3 separate regions of the Homo sapiens genome follow, and all the other regions are linked to region 1. The links come from fine-mapping of genetic effects on gene expression. A gene starts in region 1. Each other region holds a variant in brackets. All regions are shown on one strand. Distances are between the middles of the regions.

Region 1 (5,000 bases):
TTTCAAATAAGATTAACATCAATACTGATAAGTAGATAATATCACACATTAATAAACTTGTTATTGAGTTAACATATTCAATTGTCATCTTATTTTTAAATTTTTTTATATTTAAAAATTCAAAAAGCCTAAACCAGTACTTCGGCAATCATAATTACAAGAGCTTTAAATATCTATCTTTTCTGAAGATTGATGTTAATTGGGTCCTTGAAGTTCTAGAAGGGTGGTTCTTTCCTGGGTGATTTTGTCCCCCAAAAGATATTTGGCAATGTCTGGAGACATTTTTACTGTCATGACTGAGGGAAGTGGAGTGTTACTATCTCTACTGGGTAGAAGCCAGCGATGCTGCTAAACATCTCCCCATTACAAAGAATTATCTGGTCCAAGATGTCAATAGTGCAAAGGCTGAAAACAGTTTTAGAGGGGTCTGTGTACACATTTATTTCATCTCAAGAGTTTGTCCTATAACTTACTTCAAAACTAATAAGCTTACAGAGACTTAAGGATTTCTGCAGAAGCATCCTGCACACAGCAGATGCTTAACAGAAAACTAAGGAAAAAACAATTATGTATAGTTACTGCCAATTTTTAGCAGAACTCTGCAATGAATGACCCCCATTACTAAATTTCAACTTAGGAAATACATCTCTAGTTAAGATTTTGGGGCTGTGGATCTAGATAAATAAATATTTGGAAATCCTGCCAAACATCTTTTCAGGTTTATTTGATAATGCTGAAAATCGGAAGACATCCTATATTTTTGTTATCTAAGCAATTACTCCACATAATTTATGAGTAGCTGCTGTAATGGCATGTAAACGAAAATTAGATGCATAAATTCATCCTAGCACATTTTCCAGGCAAAGGTGGAAAAAAGTGCCTTACCTCTGTGGAACACTTAGGTACGGTCAGAGCCAAACACAGACACTCAAAATATTAAGTGAATCAAACACATTGTTTTATTTCAAGATCAAGCTACTAGTTGTTACTACTAGTTGTTACTATGTGACATGGTCCCAAGAGAGGATATTAAAATATACATATATACATAAAGCTGAGCATATGGGTATAGGAATTACAGAAAACATCAAAAAAGTCCTCTCAGCTATTCCCCAGAGGATTTTCCACAACGTTTCAAGATAGCCAAGTTGGCAGAGGGGTGGCCGCCCAGGTTCACCGCGGAGTTCCTATTTTGACTGTACCGTCATTCAGAAAAGAGTCGCCCGAACACCATTTTCAAGTCCTCCCGGCAGGACACAGTCAGTTTTCTCTGCGTAGCGGACTCCCTAAAAGCGCTCGACTTACCTGGCAAGAAACCTGCCTCGAAGAAGTGGCAGCATGAGGTCAGAAATCTGGACGCGCATTACGGGGAGAGTCACCGAGAAACCTGGGCATCTCTTACGTCCCGCGCCTCAAACACCCTGGTCCCCAACTCTCCACACGTCGCAGCTGCCCTCCGGTCATCGAGGCCAAGCGGCCGCGGGGACGCGGGAAGAAAAACCTCTGCCCTCGCCAGGGAGGGCCTTATGGCGGGAGGGGGCAGCGGGATAGGAAAGAGAATCTGAGCCGAGACGGCGCCGACAGGCCTGGGCGAAAGGGGTGCCACCCACCTGCGCGACCTCTTCGCCATCCTTCAAGTACCGCATAGGAGCAGGCTGGGCGGGGACGCGGGTCAGCCTCCTCCAGCCTCCGGCGAATGCTCCTTCTCCCCGATCCTCTAGCCGCTTCCCTCGCTCCCTCTGGAGGCGGCCGAGTGCGGAACGCACGTCCTCGACAGGGCAGGACGGAGGGACAGCGGGGGCGGACCGCGACCCGACCCCGACCCCGGCCCGCAGCGCCGCTCTTAGCCCCGGCCCGGCCCGGCCAGGGATACCCCCAACATGTCAGGAGGCGCGATCCCGCCCTCCGCCGGCTTCTCCCGCCGCTTGTCAGCCTCCCTGCCCTGGCCCCAGCCCGGCTCCGCCACAGGCGCCCGACCCCTGCCCTCTCCCCCGCAGCTAGCAGTTCTGCAGGGCTCGCAGTCTCCTGCAGGGTTTTGTCCGCACCGCCGAATCTCGCGCCCAGCCTCCCTCAAGAGCCGCCGTTTGAATCTGCGCACGCGGCCCTGAACCTCATTGGCTGTGGGGGCCGCACGCGAAGAAGCGAGGGCGGGGAGGGGAGAGCGCGCGCGGCTGAGGGCGGGGCTGGGGAGCTGGAAGCTGGGACTGGAACTCGCGGGAGTCGGGGAAGGAGCCGGGAGCCAGGGGGTGGGGCCGCGGGTGGGGCCGTAGGTGGCGCATGCGAGCCGAGCTGTCATAGGACCCGGAACGCGCCGAGAGGCGCACCGCGCGGGGCCTGCTGGGAGAGCGAGTTCCTGCGCTCGCCGAGGAGTGGGTCCGGAAGCGGCGCCGGAGCGGGTCCGGAAGCGGGCGGTGGAGAAGTCCAGTTGCCCCAAAATTCTTAGGGTGAGCGAACCGAGTTTCTGGCGGGGTGGGTGGTCCCGCGGCCCACCAAGGGAACGTCTCCGCAGCCTCGCCTCGGCGACAGCTCCTGGCTCCTTAGGTGTCTTCCGCCTCACTAGTTAGGATGCGCGGTCTTCAGACTTGAGACAAATCTAACCATAAATTTGCGCGGCCGTTATTTTTTAAGCAAAAATGTGAGCTATTTTTACCCAGACATCATAGTTACGAGAGTGACGAAGACTCTGGCAGGAAACCAAATATCACCTGTTTTCCTCAAAAAGCAGCAGAAGAGTGACAAGTGAAAAAAGTTCCTAGCGGGAGACGTGCTTGGAACCGGAGATAATCTGTGTCTACCGCTGGTCTTCAAGGTGCTTAATTTCGTGCCCGCTCTACAGGAAATAACGTGCGCGGCGGAGGAGCCCTGTCCTGGAGAATAACGCGTGAAGAAGACAGTGGACTGGGCATTTCGTCCAGATGAATGAGCATGGTAGTTAAGTGTAGAAGGTGACCTTCTTCCCTCTGGAGAGACCAGGGAGGGGGGAACCACCGGAGGAGTTTCTAGCGGTTGCAGCTACTTGAGGTTCCAGTCTAATAACTACGAACTGTTCATTTCAAGTAGCATTAAAGTAGATTTGCTACAGTAACAATTACACTTGGCTAAGGAAAATTTGCAAGGCAACATGGTCTATTGCATAGAGCACTGAGCCACATGTTAACACTGTAACAAACACTTGCTATTTTGAAATTTTACGCTTCATCTTTTGCAAATCAGATGCAGGTGCAGAGTGAATTAAGAGGAGCTGAATTAAGAGAGAAGCTTGCATGCACTGCTGTCAAAACCTAAACACACTGGCTTTTTTTTTTTTAACAGTTCCTTTTTTCAAGGTATAGATTCTGGGAAGGTAAGGGAAGATAAAACAGCTTTTCTTTTTCTCTCCTGTTTTTTTTTTTGTTGTTTTTTTTTTGAGACTAGGTCTCACTCTATTCCCCATGCTGGAGTGCAGTGGCACAATCATAGCTTACAGTAGCCTCGAACAGCGATCCTCTTGCCTCAGCCTCCAAAGTAGCTGGGACTACAGGCGCGCGCCACAACACCTGGCCAAGCGTTTCTTCCAGATCATTCCTTACTGGGTTGCTGGTTCAGTAAAAATAAAAAAATAAAAAATAATTTAGAAATGAGTTCCCAAATTTCATTATGTTCCCAATGTCATTTGGAATCACTGTTTCACTGTTTTCTTATTTACCCCTGGGTCGTACATTACTTCACTTATTTATATCTAACAGGAAGCAGAGCTTCTGCTATATTTTAGGCTGTATTCAGTTTTATACAGAATACCTTTTTTAGAGCTTGAAGACAAATGTTTTAGATTTTGACAGTAAAACAAATTTCCCTCATTTTTACATATAGAGAAAAGCAATTCCCAGAAAGATAACATTGTGAAATTACTGAAATCAGTTATAAAACTCAGGGCAAAGTGTGGAATTAAAGTGGTTCACAGTCATTTGAATACACATACTCAGATGTATTCTAAACTAAGATGAGTTTTTTTTTAAGCAAACGTTTAGAGATTTTATTCAGAGTATATAAAGAACTCTCAAAACTCAGTGAGAAAAAAAGCATTTAAAAAATGGGCAAAAGATTTAAACAGATTTCACCAAACGAGATATATATATACATACACACACACACACACACACACACACACACACACACACACGACAGGCATATTAAATGATGTTCCACCTCATTAGTCATTAGAGAAATGCAAATTAAACCACAATGAGATACTAGACTACACTTCTGTTAGAATGAGCGGGGAAAATGACTGACTATACAAATGTTGGTGAAGATGAAAATGCTGAGCAAGTACAACTTGCATACATTGCTGTTAGGCATGCAGAATTCAGCCATTTTGCAAAACATTTATAGTGGCTTTGTTTTGTTTGTTTTTTAATTTTTGTGGGTACATAGTAGGTGTATATATTTGTGGGGTACATGAGATGTTTTGATACAGGCATGCAATGTGAAATAATCACATCATGGAGATGGGGTATCCATCCCCTTGAGTATTTATCCTTTGTGTTACTTTTAGTTATTATAAATTTTAGTTATTTTAAAATCTACAATCAAGTTATTGACTCTAGTCAACTTGTGCTGTCAAATAGTAGGTCTTTTTTTTTTTTTTTTTTTTTTTTTTTAGACAGTCACTCTGTCACCCAGGCTGGAGTGCATTGGCGCGATCACCACTCACTGCAACCTCCACCTCCCATGTTCAAGCAATTCTTGTGCCTCAGCCTCCCAAGCAGCTGGGATTACAGGCATGTGTCACCATGCCCGGCTAATTTTTGTGGTTTTTGTTTTTTGAGACAGAGTCTCACTCTGTCACCCAGGCTGGAGTCCAGTGGCATGATCTTGGCTCACTGCAACCTCTACCTCCCGGGTTCAAGAAATTATCCTGCCACCCCAGGCTAATTTTTTGTATTTTTAGTAGAGATGGGGTCTCACCATGTTGACCAGCCTGGTCTGGAACTCCTGACCTCAGGTGATCCTCCCGCCTC
Region 2 (5,819 bases), 66 kb before region 1:
CTTCCTTTTTTTTTTTTTTTTAACAAGGTCTTGCTCTGTCACCTGGACTGAAGTGCAATGGTGAGATCTCAGCTCACTGCAACCTCCACCTCCCTGGTTCAAACAATTCTCTTGCCTTAGCCACCCAAGTAGCTGGGACTACAGGTGCACGCCATCACACCTGGCTGATTTTTGTATTTTTAGTAGAGACAGGGTTTCCCCATGTTGGCCAGGCTGGTCTCAAACTCTTGGCCTCATGTGAGCCGCCTGCCTCGCCTCTCAAAGTGCTAGGATTACAGTTGTGAGCCACTGCACTCAGCCAGTGACTCCATTTCTGAAAGTAGACTAGGAGTTACTGGGGCTAGAAATGATTATTTCTATCTCCTGAATCCCTAGCACAGAACTTTAAAAATATATAGTAGGAGCTCAATAAATACATGTTGGAGGAAGGAGGGGAGGGAGGGAAGGAAGGAGAGGAGGGATGGAGGGAAGGAGGGAGGGAGGGAAGGAAGGAAGGAGGGAAGGAAGGAAGGAAGGAAGGGAGGAGGGAAGGAAGGAAGGAAGGAGGAAAGGAAGGAAGGAGGGAGGGAGGAAGGGAGGGAGGGAAGGAAGGAGGGAGGGAGGGAAGGAAGGAGGGAGGGAGGAAAGGATGGAAGGAAGGAAGGAAGGAGGGAAGGAAAGAGGGAGGGAGGGAGGGAGGGAGGGAGGGAGGGAAGGAAGGAAGGAAGGAAGGAAGGAAGGAAGGAAGGAAGGAAGGAAGGAAGGAAGGGAAAAGGAATAAGATTCTCTGTTTTAGAATTGAGGAAATCAAAGCCCCGAAAGTCTTCTATATAAGCCTTCCAATTCCAAATCCTACCTATAAAACCAATCAAGAGTTACATAGAATTTTTTTTTTTTTGAGACAAAGTCTTGCTTTGTAGCCTAGGCTAGAGTGCAGTGGTGTGCCTATTGCACACCTCAACCTCTTGTTGTTGTGGCTTACTGCAGCCTCAACCTCTTGGGCTCAAGTGATCCTCCCACCTCAGCTAAGTAGCTGGGACTACAGGTGCACACCACCACACCTAGTAATTTATTCTATTTTTTGTAGAGACAGAGTCTCACTTGTTGCCCAGTCTGGCCTTGAACTCCTGGACTCAAGTGACCTTCCTTCCTCAGTCTCTCAAAGTGCTGAGACTACAGGCATGAGCCACTCTCTGGGGCCAAATATTTGTTATATTATCAAACACAAGATTAGAGGTAGAGTGACTTTGCATATGACTTGCTTATGTTTATTGTTCCTGTATGATTATGGATAGCATCACATTTCAAGTTCCAAACTGTCCTTAGTTTACATAGTAAATTATATGACCATTCCAGTTACAGCTGCTCTTTCTCTTTTTTTTTTTTTTTTTTTCTAAGACAGGTTCTTACTCCATCACCCAGGCTGGAGTGCAGTGGTGCAATCATGGCTCACAGCAGCCTCAACCTCCTGGGTTCAAGCAATCCTCCCACCTCAGCCTCCCAAGTAGCTGGGACTACAGGTGTGCACCACCACACCTGGCTGATTTTTAAACATTTCTGTAGAGAAAGGGTCTCACATTTTTGCCCAGGCTGGTCTCAAACTCCTGCGTTCAAGCAATCCTCCTGCCTAAGCCTCCTGAAGTGCTGAGATTACTGGCCACAGCTACTCTTAAGTCAACAAAAACCCTCTGAGTCACCCTCCCCTATAAACTCTTTCTTGTCCATGGTTCCTGTTAGTACCTCAGAACCTGTTGGAGTCATTGCTGAACACTGAATACAGAACTGGGGTGGTTACACGGGTCAAAGCTTTCAGAGCACTCTTCAAACTAAAAATGCAAATTTTTTCATATTTCTCATGTGATTCAATATCAGATTCTCACTTTTGACCATCCCTCTATAGCCTACAATATTACACATGGATGTGAAC[T/C]AAGTTATGGCTTTTTAAAAATGTTTTGCTGCTATCTTCTTTTGTTACATTTTATTGGTTATACATGCCAAACAAACCAATTAATTTTTAACAGCTTTATTGAGGCATAATTTACATACCATTAAATTCACTCATTTCGAGTATTCAATTCAATAATTTTTGATAGGCTGGGCATGCTGGCTCATGCCTATAATTCCAGCATTTTAGGAGGCCAGTGAATTGCTTGAGCCCAGGAGTTCAAGACCAGCCTGGATGACATGGCAAAACCTCACTGCTATAAAAAAATATACAAAAATTAGCTAGGCATGGTGGTATAGACCTATAGTCCCAGCTGCTCGGGAGGCTGAGGCAGGAGGATCACTTGAGCTCAGGAGGTCAAGGCTGCAACGAGCTGTGATTGTGCCACTGCACTCCAGCCTGGGAGACAGAGTGAGACCCTGCCTCAAAAAAAATAAAAAAATTTTATAAACTCACAGAGTTGTGTAACCAACACCACAGTAATTGGATTATTTTTATTTATATAATGGAAGTCATGCATATCTTGAGCTATTATATGAGTTATTTAATGTACAAAACCCCAAACATATATTCTCTAACTCTCTTTCTTTTTCTCAACAATTCAATGCTGTAATAACTTATATCTGTCTCAGGAAATGACTTCCTCTCAAGCCTTAGGAAAATAAGTGGGGATTATAAAATAATGACCATATTCTTGAGCATAATAGTACTGTTAGCAGCCTCAAATCCATAGGGGTCTGCAGCAACCTCAATTCTTGCCTCCTCAGAAGAATTCAACCGAGGGGCATAAGGCAGAGTGACAGACCCAGGCAAGTTTTAGAGCAGGAGTGAAAGTTTTTTAAAGAAATTTTGGAGTAGGAAGGAAAGAAAGTAAAGTACACTTGGAAGAGGGCCAAGTGGTGACTTCACAGATTCAAGTGCCCTGTTTGACCTTTGACTTGGGGTCTTATACATTGGCATGTTTCTGGGGTTTTGCTCTCTTCTCCCCTGATTCTTCCCCTGGGGTGGGCTGTCCACAGCTCAGTGGACTCCCAGCAGTTGAGAGGAGCCCCAGGAGCAGTGTTTACTGGTGTTGTACATGCTCACTTGAAGCATTTTTGCCTTACCAGTCAAGTGTTCCTGGAGGAAGGTCATATAGCACTTAAACTCCGTCATTTTGCCTCTTAGTGCTCATGCTGGAGCCTGCTCACCCAACTCCTAAGATCTTATTGGGAAGCTGCTAATCACCAGTTTCAGGTGTTTCTATCTATTGGGAGACTGCCTTTGCCTGGTGCTGGTTGTGACCAATTTTTTTTTATAGAGACGAGGTCTCACTATATTGCCCAGGCTGGTCTCAGTGATCCTCCCACCTCTGCCTCTCAAAATGCTGGGATTACAGGAGTGAGCCACTGCCCCTGGCCACAATTATTATTTTAGAGAGACAGTTTAATAACCACCTGACCATCACCTCATGGTTGCCTGACATTTCTGGTGAACACAGGGTTGGCGGGGGGCCTTTCCTGCCCTGCTCGTGTCTGACTAGCTATCCACTGTAATAGTACTTTAGTATTTTTTTTCCAGAACACACTGCATTTTATGTTTTCACAAAAATGAGGAGAAATAACCATAAGTGAGAAGATAGCTCTGTCCTTACAATGTGGGAGAAAGTCGATAGCTGACATCTGATGATTTAATTACATGGCCCACAGACATTCTGCCTCCAGGGTTCCTCTCATCACTATCACCCAACCAAGCATTCTACCTCCTCAGCTACTTTCTTTTTGTGGTTATTACTAAATAGATATCCTGTGTTGTCATTTAAAACCATTGCCACTGGGTTATAATAAGAGAAGAAAATCCAGGCAGCTGCTAAGAATGCAGTGGCTTGTTTTCCCATGGGCCCCTTTGTTCTTTACCACGGCTTGACATTCTGTGTGAGGATTCCAGGCTTGAAACTGCTAATTCACTGTCTTTCATCACAGAACCCAAAGAGACCCCATCATGGCTGCAATGCCCCGTTTAACTGAAATGTACCATTAACCATGCTCTTATCCATTTAATATAAAATCAACTACTCCCGTCAACTACTGTGACTAGAGTTTCTGATATCAACATGCCAACAAAACAATGGCAATGAGAGCTAAATCTTACTTCCCACCAAGCTTTGTGTCATAGTTCACTGGCCACCGAACATATTCAAGAACATGAACAGTCAAGGAAATGCTGGAAGAGAGTGAAAGAGATCTTTCTAGGGATGGGGGTTTCTTATTCAAGAACCCCAGGAGTGGTTCCCCAAATTCTGGATTTCATGTGCCTGTAAGATTTCAAAAATATTAGGGGTTTGGAGAATAGGTTTGGGGTTTGGCATATATTGCCAAATTAGGACTATCCTCATTGTTTCAGAAAGAAAGATTATTATGCAGACACCCCAAAAATAGAAAGAATGTGTTCTCAGAATGAATGACCATTCTATAAGTTAATTAACTTTTGTTTTACTTAAAAACTTATTATGCCCACCAACTTTTCTCAAATAAAAGTATAGCTTCACCCAAAATATAATTGCCTTTCATATAGACAACGAAATTTTTGAAATGCTTGTTTGTACTCAGCTACAGAAAGGAGATCCTGGATGGGCATGGTGACACATGCCTATAATTCCAGCGCTTTGGGAGGCCAAGGTAAGAAGACACTTTAAGCCAGGAGTTTGAGACCAGCCTGGGCAACATAGCGAGATCCCCATCTTTCCAAAAAAAAAAAAAAATTAGCTGAGTGTGGTGGTGCATGACTGTAGTCCCAGCTACTCAGGAGGCTAAAGTTCAAACATCACTTGAGCCCAGGAGTTTGAGGCTGCAGTGAGCTATGATCACACCACTGCACTCCAGCAAAACTCCATCTTTAAAAAAGAGAGAGAGAGAGAGATCCTGCCATTTCCCACAACATGGATGGAAAGGACCTGGATGACACCTTGCTAAGTGAAATAAGCCAGACACAGAAAGAAAAAATACTGCATGATCTTACTTACATGTGGAATCTTAAAAAAAAAAAAAACCCAAATACACAAAGATAGAGAACAGGGACAAGTGAGGAGGGGAAGGGAGAGAAAATAGGGAGATGTAGCAAGTACAATGTGAGGACCAAAGTTAATAAAATTGTACTGTATTGGGAATTTTTGTTAAATAAGATTTTTAGCTGCTCTTGTCACACACAAAAAAGGAACTATGTGAGATAATGTATATGTTAATTTGCTTTACTATAGTATCAATTTTACTATCTATACATATCCTTTAATATCACGGTTTGTTTTGTTTTGTTTTGCTTTGTTTTGTTTTGTTTTGAGACAGGATCTCACTCCTGTAGCCCCCACTGGAGAGCAGTGGTGTGGCGCAATCTCAGCTCACTGTAGTCTCAACCGCCTGGCCTCAGGTGATCCTCCTACCTCAGCCTCCTGAGTAGCTGGGACTACAGGCACCCAGCTAATTTTTTTGTTTTTTTAGTAGAGACAGGGTTTCGCCATGTTGCCCAGGCTAGTCTCAAACTCCTGGACTCAAGCAATCTGGCCACCTCAGCCTCCCAAAGTGCTGGGATTACAGGCATGAGCCACCATGCCCAGCCAATATCATGTTTTAAGCCTCAAATATATACAATACAATTTATTGTTTAACAAAGAAAAACATTTATTTCTAATTATTTGCCCAGATTGAAAGATTGATTTTTAAAAATCTCAAACTGAATTCTAGAATTCAGGCAATATTTGGTATTGCAATGATCTAATGAATTCCATTCACTCTATGTTCCTATCCCGCCCACCTCCCAACCCTTAATTTGTATTATGGTCTAGGGAAACACGCTATTCTTTCTAGGGAAACAATGCTATTCTTTCTCCACCAGCAAGCTTGAGAAAACATTTACCTTTAAA
Region 3 (5,000 bases), 80 kb before region 1:
CACAAGCAGATCTACCAGGTGTCTCAGGGCTTGCGCTCTTAGGGTCTAAAAGGGCTTTGCTATTTAAAAAACTGCAAGAAAACAAATTGTTCTGCAGACTCTGAAGGGCAATTACTAAGGAGAGGTTCCAAAGACATTTGGGAGATGACGTCACCGGAATGAATGGACTGCTTGCCACGGTTTTAAAGAGAACAGCCCTCATTAGACCCCACAGGTTTCATACAATCCCCATACGACTCTCTAATCAGAGACGGAGCAGGCTGTTTACAGTGTTTGTGGTGCAGTTATTTTGACAGGACAGCTATTTTGACAGAGCCTCATGGAAACTGCTCCATGAAATGGAGCCTCCTTCTGTCTGGTATCACAGAACCCTGTAAGCATCCCTGATGCTTGCTCTGCCTCTGGCCACCATGGTTTATAGGGAATTTTTGCTCCTTCTATTGCTTTTGGTTCCATATTAGTCATCTAATTTATTTATTCTTAATGAAATATATAAATAACATGCAACATTCGTGTGAAAAAAAGGTAGGCTATCACGCTGATGTGTACTTAGAGAAACTCCCTAGATGGATATTTTCTTTTTTTTTTTTTTTTTGACAAGAGTTTGACAAGAGTTTTACTCTTGTCACCCAGACTGCAATGGCGCAATCTCGGCTCACTGCAACCTCCGCATCCCAGGTTTAAGCAATTCTCCTGCCTCAGCCTCCCTGGGATTACAGGCATGTGCCACCACGCCTGGCTAATTTTTGTACTTCTAGTAGAGACGGGGTTTCACCATGTTGGCCAGGCTGGTCTCGAACTCCTGACCTCAGGTGATCCACCCCCTCTTGGCCTCCCAAATGCTGGGATAACAGGCCGGCCCAGACGGATATTTTCTAAACTGGCAGTATTCATTGCTTCTAGCGTGGGATCTTAGGGACTTGGGAACAGGTATAGTGAGAACAGTATTGCTCAAGATACACCCTTTTGAACTCTGAATATTTTTTGTATCAAATGCATCTGATTTTTAATCTTGTTTTAAAATTTATTTGTGAGCAGTTTTAGATTTACAGAAAAAATGGGCAGAACACAGAGCTCTCACATACTCCCTCACCCCTCCACACCCTATTATTAATATCTTGCATATTAGTGTAGTACATGTGTTACAATTGATGAGCCAATATTGATACATTATAACTAAAGTCCTCTAGGCCAGGTCCCTCACCCCTGTAATCCCAACACTTTGGAAGGCCAAAGCAGGCACTGGGATTTGAGGACAGCCTGGGCAACATGTACATTTAACAAAAATTACCAAAAATTACCAAAAAAATTAGCCAGGTGTGGTGGCGCAAGCCTGTAGCCCCAGCTACTGGGGAGGCTGAGGTAGGGGGATCACTTGAGCCCAAGAGGTCGAGGCTGCAGTGAGCCATGATAGCACCACTACACTCCATCCTGGGGAACAGAGCAAGGTCCTGTCTCAAAAAACAAACAAACAAACAAAGTCCATAATGTACATTATGTCACCTTTGATGTTGTACATTCTATGGGTTTCGACAAATGTGTAATGACATGTATCTGCCATTTCAGGATCAGACAGACTAGTTTCACTGCCATAAACACCCTCTGTGCTCTCTCTTCCTGTTCATCTCTCCCTTCCTCTCTCTCTCCACTGGACCCCTGGTAACAACTGGTCTTTTTATCATCTCCATAGTTTTGCCTTTGATTTTTGTTTTAACCATGTGCATTTTTACTTATTTAAAAAAATTGTTTTAATCTTAAGAATATTTTTGAAAAGTCCATTCAAACTAGGTTAGCTTTTCAGGGGATGCCCCTCCTCCAAACCGTCATCATAAAGGAATGTAACCTATTAACTAATGCCAATACAAAATATGTTGAGAAAACTGTTAGAAATGTAATTGAGCATTCTCTGGGCAGCCTGTTGCTAAGGAAAAAGGATCACATTGTCTCCAGTATCCTCGCCTCCTACCCCCTGCCCCCTCTAGCGTCTGAAAAATAATTCCACTGACATATTCAAGAAACTTAGAAAAAATAGACAGATTTGCAAATCTGTCATAAAATATGGGTGTTGCAACTCAAAGAGCAAAATCAGAGGACGTGAGATGTAGAATTCTCAGGACTCAAGCAGATTCTCAGAAAAGAA[A/G]CAACCCTCACCAAGCATAATGATGCACTTCCTGAGGGCCCGCATGTGGTAAACACAATCATGGTGTTGTTATTCGTGGTTTTCCATCAGCGACTGCCTGCCCCGGGGACCTGACACAGCCTTGGTCCCCGCCTTCCCCGATCCCTGTCTCAGAGGCATCCAGGGCACTGGCATGGAGGGGAGGTTCAGCGACCAAATGGAGCTTGGGATGGATGAAGCTCTTCCTTTATTGATAATAAAGTCAGTTGAAAAAATCAGTGTTGTGTGGGGTTTTTTAATGACTTTTTTAGGCTTCTTTTAAAAGGCTGTATCAAATATGCTTATGCCAAAATGATAATGTCAAAATGCCAGGTGCCCTCCCAGACTTAATGAGATGCTAGCCCACCTGTCACTCCAAGGAGAGGGAACAGAGGCATGCACAGGGGGAAGGACCTTTCACAGGGGGAAGCCAGCGTGCAGCAGAGGGGATCAAACATTCAGTTATACTGTGGCGCCATAATATGTGTCGTATTTTACACACACACAGGATTAAATGCTCACCTCAACAGAGCAGATTTACTCATTATGCATTCCCTCTAGAGACTATCAGAATTTCTGAATTATCAAAATCAACACCAGATATCAATACCAGAATTATCAAACTCAATCTTTTTCTTGCTTTTACTTATATACTGTGCTTTAAAACCCTGGTGCTGTAGGCAGCCATGGTGATTAGAGATCAGTTCTACAGCTCCATGATCTTCCCATCAAAACACATGTCAGTTAACTCCCTTCAGGACTGAAAGGTTTGTCTCCAGAAACCTGCAAGGGGTATGACAAGTGCCAAATGTGGGTCTGGGGTCTCCTAAAGAAAGGGCTGTGACATGACCAGAGCAAGGAGATTGGCTCTCTGGAATAGCACGCGCGCGCGCATGTGTGTGTGGGTGTGTGTGTGTGACTGGGTTTTGCTCTGTTGCCCAGGCTGGAGTGCAGTGTTGCAATCATAGCTCACTGCAGCCCTGAACTCTCGGGCTCAAGGAATACTTTCAACTCAGCCTCCCAAGTAACTTGAAATACAGCCACAAACCATCACAATCGGCTAATTTTGTGTTGTTGTTGTTGTTGTTGTTGAGGCCAGGTCTCACCACGTTGCCTAAGCTGTTCTCAAACTCCTGGGCTCAAGCAATCCTCCCACCTCAGCCCCCCAAAGTGTTGGGATTACAGATGTGAGCCATCATGCCCAGCCTATAGCACCTTTTGTTAGTGAGTTTAGGAAAAGCAATTGAGTCACCCTAAAGCCTTAATCTTTACAAGAATCACCTGATGAGTTTGTAGAAATACAAATTCCTGGGTCCCTATCTCAGATTACCATAGGTTAGGGTAGAGGAAAAAAAAAAAAAACACAGGGAATTCAGATGCTATCAGTCCAATTGGCCCTAAATTGTCAGTGAGTGAGTGAATTTCACTTGACTTCCTTTCACTTTCACTTCATTTCACACTTTCACTTCATTTCACAATGGCCCATGTTTTTCTGGAGAAGAAGCTGAATCCTAAAGGGCAGCCTTATTTAAATAGTGAGACACATCATTGAATATTTACTTGTAATTTATATATTGCCTGTTTCTGGAATTGCTGAAGCAGTCAATGCTTGAGCAGGATTGCAAGGAGAGATACATATTAGGGAAAACTAGAAGATGGGGGACCTTACATTTGTGAGTGGCTGGTATCGGCTCATCCCCGGTTTTCACAAATACACATTCTCATGTAGTCCTCCCAGCAACCTCATTTTCTAAATGAGAAATTGGAGGCTTAGAGAGGTTCAATAACTTGCTCAAGGTCACACAGACACTAAGTGTGTTTCTGTCTGCTTTGATCCCATATCGGTCCAATACCCTACAGCTGCAACCTATCTGAAACTCTAAACAAGAAAGCGTGAAATCACTTGTATTTAAAATTAACAGAAAAAGAAGAAAAAAAAAAAAAACCTTTTGAAAATGTTTGCACCAGATGACTACATGAGCATGGCCAGCAAAACCTCTCTTGAAAGGGGAAATAATTTGGCTGCTTGTGGTTTAGAAACATTGCCCCACCCTCAATGCTGTACCTATCAAGTCAGCAAGCTCCCTACTAACTGTGCCCTCCACTTGAGTCATGAATATGCCAGCAACAGGAAAGGAAGGGGAAATTCCATTAAACATCTGAAGTCTTGTTTCAGGAATGAGTGACTCAGAGGCCACTGACAGCTCCCGGCCCTTATGAAGAAGCCACAGGCAATCAGTGAGCACTTGACGGAACTTGGGCTTCCAGAGCACCAACTTCTAGAGGATGGTTGATTTCTGGGCCCCAAGTCTGCAGTCAAACATTTCAGAAACCTCTGGGGCAAGTGCTTTAACTTCCCTAACTCTCGGTGTCTTTGTGTAAAATGAAGATAACACCTACTGCACAGAGAAATTGTGAGGCACAAAATAAGATAGGGAGGTAATGACATTGGCACACAGTAGGTACTGGAACGATGGGAACTCCTGATTGCCAGGAGAAAGGAAGAAGCATAATAAACAGCAGTCAGTTAAAGTGCTCTCCTCTTGACTTCATTTCTTCAACAACCATAAGTTGAGCGCTCACTGAATGCCGAAGACACAAAGGAGAAGGCAGGTGGGCAGACGGATTGAGCTCCCGTGATGATGCAATGTGATCAGTGCAGAAACCCAAGAGGAGCAAAGAGGCAGGGCTGGGGAGGAGAACTGATGAGTTCTGCCTGGGGCATCAGAAGGACCCAGGGGAGCTGGGCTTGGGCAGGGCCAGGAGTAAGAGGTCACTAGCTAGACAAAGAAAAGGTGTTTTAGGCAAAGCAAAGAGCATAAACAAAACCACAGATGACAGA

What was found. PIP is the estimated chance that this variant, and not a neighbour inherited with it, causes the effect.
Region 2: its variant is fine-mapped to the expression of MYBL1 in whole blood (TOPMed, PIP 0.95).
Region 3: its variant is fine-mapped to the expression of MYBL1 in whole blood (INTERVAL, PIP 0.90).

Annotation. Positions count from the first base shown.
Region 1 is chr8:66,611,209-66,616,208 of GRCh38, forward strand. It overlaps MYBL1 (MYB proto-oncogene like 1), which reads right to left and starts at 2,010. Exons shown (of 16, transcript NM_001080416.4): 1 at 1,611-2,010. The coding sequence starts at 1,630. LOC105375884 (a long non-coding RNA gene) reads left to right here and starts at 2,341. Exons shown (of 2, transcript XR_929015.3): 1 at 2,341-2,444; 2 at 2,837-4,650. RefSeq lists a silencer at 1,777-2,296 and enhancers at 2,527-2,666, 2,717-2,796, 2,807-2,856.
Region 2 is chr8:66,545,259-66,551,077 of GRCh38, forward strand. No RefSeq gene overlaps it. Among named protein-coding and RNA genes, the nearest start is that of VXN, 55 kb to the left of the region's middle. RefSeq lists an enhancer at 1,553-1,602. The variant T/C (reference allele first, on the strand shown) is at 1,907.
Region 3 is chr8:66,531,635-66,536,634 of GRCh38, forward strand. All of the region lies in intron 1 of LOC124901955 (a long non-coding RNA gene), which reads right to left. Among named protein-coding and RNA genes, the nearest start is that of VXN, 41 kb to the left of the region's middle. The variant A/G (reference allele first, on the strand shown) is at 2,141.